Regions from separate parts of the Homo sapiens genome. Here region 2 is reported to be linked to region 1. Evidence: microRNA targets listed by miRTarBase, many of them from high-throughput screens and not tested one by one. Region 1 holds a microRNA gene; the other region holds the end of a gene's coding sequence.

The links. The annotated mature microRNA hsa-miR-7-1-3p reads CAACAAAUCACAGUCUGCCAUA and lies in region 1 at 797-818, shown strand. An mRNA with a match to its seed (bases 2 to 7 or 8) in the 3' UTR can be bound and repressed. Matches are read on the target gene's strand: a 7mer-m8 pairs with bases 2 to 8, a 7mer-A1 pairs with bases 2 to 7 and ends in A, and an 8mer does both.
Region 2: the mRNA of MATN1 is a reported target of hsa-miR-7-1-3p. Seed matches in the 3' UTR shown: 7mer-m8 at 2,076-2,082.

The regions. Positions count from the first base shown.
Region 1 is chr9:83,967,178-83,970,588 of GRCh38, reverse strand. MIR7-1 (microRNA 7-1) reads left to right here and starts at 732; the gene lies at 732-841. It overlaps HNRNPK (heterogeneous nuclear ribonucleoprotein K), which reads left to right. Exons shown (of 17, transcript NM_031263.4): 16 at 258-427; 17 at 1,149-2,506. The coding sequence ends at 1,182.
Region 2 is chr1:30,710,698-30,714,108 of GRCh38, forward strand. It overlaps MATN1 (matrilin 1), which reads right to left. Exons shown (of 8, transcript NM_002379.3): 8 at 580-2,934. The coding sequence ends at 2,885. Among named protein-coding and RNA genes, the nearest start is that of MATN1-AS1, 6.4 kb to the right of the region's middle.

The DNA of each region.
Region 1 (3,411 bases):
CTGTTTGAGTCTTGTCAAGTGATCAGTGCTATTAATAAAAGTAGTTAAGTAGGTTTTGAGCCCTTAACTAACTAAGGGAAACATTAGTAAGTGTGACATAAATACATTATAACTCAAACCTTGACAGGTTTAGGGAGCGTTAGATCATCAGTTAAGATTCTGAATGAATAAAATTAATAACTTCATGCTCCTTGAAAATACAGGTAGTAAATGTTAAAAGTATATCGTAAACACATACTTTTAAAAAATCTTTTCAGTTGGCTGGATCTATTATTGGCAAAGGTGGTCAGCGGATTAAACAAATCCGTCATGAGTCGGGAGCTTCGATCAAAATTGATGAGCCTTTAGAAGGATCCGAAGATCGGATCATTACCATTACAGGAACACAGGACCAGATACAGAATGCACAGTATTTGCTGCAGAACAGGTCAGTTTAAGTTTAGCTTTGTGTTAGCTTATACATACTAAAACCTTTAAAAAGCTTTTCTTCTCAATTGATTTTTTTCTTTTAGAAGCCATGGTGTCTCAACCTTTTGGGGACCTAACTTCTAAACATTCTAATAGTTTGCCTTAATTTTTCTTCTGCTTTCTTACTAAAAATGAAGACATTCAATACTAATCTTGCTGGAAGAAGCCTTAACCAAGCAAACTTCTCATTTCTCTGGTGAAAACTGCTGCCAAAACCACTTGTTAAAAATTGTACAGAGCCTGTAGAAAATATAGAAGATTCATTGGATGTTGGCCTAGTTCTGTGTGGAAGACTAGTGATTTTGTTGTTTTTAGATAACTAAATCGACAACAAATCACAGTCTGCCATATGGCACAGGCCATGCCTCTACAGGACAAATGATTGGTGCTGTAAAATGCAGCATTTCACACCTTACTAGCATTCTTTGTCTTTTCTACCAAATATTAACAACTTTCAATTCCGTTTTCTTAATTCTGTTCTACTAATGTCCGATTTACTACTCATCATTTTTCTTGACACTTAACATTGCTTTAATTTGTAATTGCTAATGGTTTTTGAACTCTTCTAATTGTAATGGACGTGTTTATCATTTTAATTTAGCATTGAAATTGTCTTGATGTTGATTAAGATGTTACGAGCAAAAATTCTAATTCGCACTTTTTTTTCTTTTCTTTTATAGTGTGAAGCAGTATGCAGATGTTGAAGGATTCTAATGCAAGATATTTTTTCTTTTTTATAGTGTGAAGCAGTATTCTGGAAAGTTTTTCTAAGACTAGTGAAGAACTGAAGGAGTCCTGCATCTTTTTTTTTTTATCTGCTTCTGTTTAAAAAGCCAACATTCCTCTGCTTCATAGGTGTTCTGCATTTGAGGTGTAGTGAAATCTTTGCTGTTCACCAGATGTAATGTTTTAGTTCCTTACAAACAGGGTTGGGGGGGGGAAGGGCGTGCAAAAACTAACATTGAAATTTTGAAACAGCAGCAGAGTGAGTGGATTTTATTTTTCGTTATTGTTGGTGGTTTAAAAAATTCCCCCCATGTAATTATTGTGAACACCTTGCTTTGTGGTCACTGTAACATTTGGGGGGTGGGACAGGGAGGAAAAGTAACAATAGTCCACATGTCCCTGGCATCTGTTCAGAGCAGTGTGCAGAATGTAATGCTCTTTTGTAAGAAACGTTTTATGATTTTTAAAATAAATTTAGTGAACCTATTTTTGGTGGTCATTTTTTTTTTAAGACAGTCATTTTAAAATGGTGGCTGAATTTCCCAACCCACCCCCAAACTAAACACTAAGTTTAATTTTCAGCTCCTCTGTTGGACATATAAGTGCATCTCTTGTTGGACATAGGCAAAATAACTTGGCAAACTTAGTTCTGGTGATTTCTTGATGGTTTGGAAGTCTATTGCTGGGAAGAAATTCCATCATACATATTCATGCTTATAATAAGCTGGGGATTTTTTGTTTGTTTTTGCAAATGCTTGCCCCTACTTTTCAACAATTTTCTATGTTAGTTGTGAAGAACTAAGGTGGGGAGCAGTACTACAAGTTGAGTAATGGTATGAGTATATACCAGAATTCTGATTGGCAGCAAGTTTTATTAATCAGAATAACACTTGGTTATGGAAGTGACTAATGCTGAAAAAATTGATTATTTTTATTAGATAATTTCTCACCTATAGACTTAAACTGTCAATTTGCTCTAGTGTCTTATTAGTTAAACTTTGTAAAATATATATATACTTGTTTTTCCATTGTATGCAAATTGAAAGAAAAAGATGTACCATTTCTCTGTTGTATGTTGGATTATGTAGGAAATGTTTGTGTACAATTCAAAAAAAAAAAAGATGAAAAAAGTTCCTGTGGATGTTTTGTGTAGTATCTTGGCATTTGTATTGATAGTTAAAATTCACTTCCAAATAAATAAAACACCCATGATGCTAGATTTGATGTGTGCCCGATTTGAACAAGGGTTGATTGACACCTGTAAAATTTGTTGAAACGTTCCTCTTAAAAGGAAATATAGTAATCTTATGTATTTTTTTGTGTGAAGTGTTTTTCTAGCATTTATAAGTGAAAGCTGGCAGGGGTGGTAGTTGGGCTCATAATTAACGTGGTAATTTAGCAAAATGAGAGCCTAGTCATCCAATTTTTTTTTTCTTATAGTCAGCCAGAGCTTTCCTCATTACCTATGAGAAATTTTGAGTGAGTTACTTGGTTCCTTTCTCTAAAATAGCTTTAGTTTGATGTTTGAGAATATCGGAGATAATGTAAAATAACTGCAGAGTATGGTTCCCGGCTCATATTTCTGAAGTACTACTTATTAACCTCCAGCTGTCCAGAAAGCTTGAAAACTGTTTTTGTTTTGTTTTGTTTTGTTTTTTGAGACAGTGTCTTGCTGTTTTTCCCAGGCTGGAGTGCAGTGGCATAATCTTGGCTCACTGCAACCTCCATCTTCTGGGCACAAGCAATCTTCCTGCCTCAAAACAGATGAACAACTATATAGGAAAGGAGTCATGAATGTAATTATTGAATTTAGGTCAGAGGCTTGTGTATAATAAAAGTAACAGTTGGGCAGTTCTAGAATTCATGTAAGTATTAATAGTATGAACAGAATAATGTCTTTTAAGGGAAGTAGAGTTGAGTGACATTTAGTTTGGGGAGGGACGTAGAGTGATCTTTTGATTAATGAAGAACATGAAGTAAATGTCAAAATATTACTTAAAACTAGTGAATGCTACCTGTGGTATGGTTTCCCCAGTGTGGTTGAGTTGGGGTTGCTCAGGGTGAAATGAGCCCTTACCCCTAAAGAAAAATGACAAGGACACTTTAGTCAAATTGTTAATCCTACTGAAGGAAAGCATCCCTGGAGAGAACACTGGCTTCCAAAGCTTTTATCTGTTACCTGTAAATGAGTTATGTAACACATGGACCATTAGCTGC
Region 2 (3,411 bases), not on the chromosome of region 1:
GGATCACTGAGAAGTGTGAATTGGAAATTGTGTATATATCACCCGGCACATAGGGATCACCCAAAAATGGTAACTCAATAGGTGACCCAAACTTGATTCTGACCCCAAATACTCCAAGGCTGCGACGCCCCCATAAGCAGAGTGGTCCCCTCCCCTTGTCAACATACCTTGATGCCAACCAGGGTTGAGTAGCAGGGCCCCCCAACCCCCAGCCTCACAGGCGGCTCTGAAGAGGATGCAGGCCCAGCCTCAGGTATCAGGAAGTCCCTGAGCAGCTCCTGTCTTCTCCTGGATTAATTGCATTCACATCTGGAACAGATGGGGCATTGGGACTCTCCACCCCCGCCCCCTTTTTTCAAAGAGCACTGGTCCAGGAGAAAACCATGTAATTAAAAGAGGAGAAATGCAAAACAATCCCCTTAGCGGACTGTGCCATCTTCTCTCCCTTGTAAATCCATTAATGAACTGTAATTGCAAAGACAAACCCTTTATTGAAACCTGGTAACCAATGCACTACGGGGCCAAGAGACTCCCATTATAGCCCAAGGCCTGAGGAAAGAAAGAAAAGAACAATCCTAATTAGTTTAGTCCTGTTTATTTATACAAAATTCAAAAAAACAAAATTACAGGTTACAAAGTAACTTGCCATCTGTCAGTAGACCATGGCTGCCCTCGGGAGATGCTGGTTTTCATTTACAACCTTCTGTTAATCAAACCTAGAGCAGAGAGGGATGTGGGAAGTCCATGGAGAGGACGGATTTCAAGAGGACCTGGAGTAGCCGTGGGGAGAACTGCGATGAGTGAAGGGCAAGAGTTTGGGATTGAAAGATCCCAAGAAGCTGGTCCCTGCCTTCATCAGAGCCTGGTGACAAGGTCCTGCCACTACTCCACCCACCGGGCAGGGAAGAACGAGGTCCTATTCCCAGGCAGGGCTTCCACCCCATCTCTGACTCCACTCATCAGGGACATCTGTTGCTTCTGCCCGCCAGCTCCCAGGCCATGGCGTCCGCTAATGACCCTCTCCTCCTCCTTGGGGACACACTGCTGAGCCTTCTCAGTCCATATCAACATGGCTGCCTCTCCCCCTCCCCACCTGTGTGGGGAGGAGAGGGGAGTGGATAATCTCAGAAGAAAGGAAGAATGAGCAGAGTCATAACTTCTCAGGTGGCTGTGTCAAGGAGCCTCCTTGGACAGCAGAAAAACTCCTGCCCCAGGGACGGACAGAGAGAAAGGGTTTGGTGAACTGTGTAGGAGGTGGAGTCAGGTCATGGGGGCGAGGGTGGCTGTGCCCCAGTTAAGTCGCGCTTGTGTATTTGTGCTGTTGTACTGATGTAGCTCTTGGGTACCGTTCGTGTTGTTATTCTGCCTCTTTGAACTGCCTCCGAGGAAGATCTTTCGGTGTGGTCTGAGCTTCTTGTAAAAGCCTTTTAGACATGCTCTCAAGTGTGAATCTAGTAGTAACACTAAAAATGCTCCATTAAACAAGAATAGGTTCAGAAAATCACCAAAGCTCCCCCTCTGAGAGGACAGAGATGGAGATTCCGGAGCAGCACTGGTCCAACAGGGGCCTGGGGGAGGTGGCCGAGATCTCAGGGTGTGACCTGCAGACCCCACATAGGGCTGGAGGAAGGGAACATGGGGCCAGGAGTCTTTCTCTTGTGCAGTCTCTGAGGTGGGGCTGCTGCCATCTGCGTTGGGGACTTTGGGTTGGGGGTGATGCCGCCTGTGCACAGGAAACAAACAGAACTCCAACAGGGCATGTTGGGGGCGGGAGGGGAGAGGCACCTAGGGCAGCCCAGGCCCAGGCTGGAGCCCTTCCCATCATCTCACACACACACTCACCCCGTGGGCTCCCAGGTATCAAGAGGAGGCACAAACCCCTGGTACGACCTAAACCCACTCTCTTTTCCTCTGGCTGGTCCCTCTGGCTGGTGGGGGTGACATGAGCACCCTGCTCAACTGTATGTCTCTTAGGGCAGGAACTACGTCTGTCTCATACAGCACCATCCCCCCCCACCGCCATTGCCCTGTAAGTACATGATACCTGAACGAATGAGTGAACGAATGAATGAATGAACAAATGAGTCCTATCTGGTGTCATTGCCCTTTTTCTCTGAAGCCTTTTTCTTTTGATGTTCTTCAGTCCTAGATTCAAGTCCTGTCTCTCAGCGACCCACTGCTGAGCAAGTCATTTCATCATTTAGACTCTCAGCTTTCCCATTTGTAATGGGGATAATTTGAGTCTTTTCTGGGTAAGGTTACTGGAAGTGAAATGAGGTCAACTAAATGAATATGTAACTGAAAAGGCAGGACAAACACCAGCTGGTTTTGGTGTGGTCACTGTCATCACTGTCACCACCACTGTTACCATCCTTCCAACCATCCCCTCCCACCACATCTTCATCCATCCTTTTCCCTGGTCCCCAAATAACCACACTGCCTCTAGCCCCATTCACTGCTTACGTTAAATCACATTTAATTGTTTCTCACCGGAGAATAGAGAAATCAGTAAAGAAATTCACAGCACTCAGAGTCAAGAAAGGGTTAACTAAAAAAGATGGGAATATATTAAGCTTTTGATTATAAAAATGCAAACGCAGTCCCTCTCACACTCACCCCTGCATTATCACTCTCACACTCACATTCTGGCAAGACTCATGCCCACCCTCAGGCGCACGTGCACACACACACACACACACACACATGCACACATACACACACGCACACATACACACACGAGCTCCCAAACGCCATTACACGCTCTCAATAGGCACACCCAGACACACCCCCTCCCACCCCCGGGCTGGCTTCCCTCACTAAAATGGTAAAGCTACGGCGGACACGTGCAGGACGCTTGGAGAGGCCACAGTGGTGACAGGCAGCCTTAGACAACTGTGTTCTCCAGGATGGCCAGCCGCTTACTCACAGCTTCCAGTGGACTCAGAGTTAAGGAGAGGTGCAGGTTGGCCAGAGCAGGGCAGGGATGGCTGTGGCCCTGCACTCAGGCCCCTGCAACACCCCACTACAGCGTGCATTCTCCCCTCTGTCAGAACTTATCCATCCACTGTCCTCAGAATGGTGCTTTCCAAAAAACACAGCCAGTTACTGTGAGCCACGAGTGCCCAGCCCTGCTCAGTTGCAGATTTAGACCTGCTGGGTTCCCCACCTAGTCCTGGCTGAGCCAGGGGAACTGTCTGGGGCCCAGCCCCACCTCTGAGTGGGTACTGGGGTCAGGCACGTCACCATGAGCCTGAGAAATGGGGCATCCATGGGCTCCATGTTCTTCAGAGCATGTCCAGGACTCTGGTGTGTGTCCAGTCCCTAGATCCTGGCTTCTGCCTCATTTTCTTGTTTACCTTCTAGGAGTCTCTGCTTTTGACAGGGTGTGCACCCAAGCTGGCTTCAGCTTAT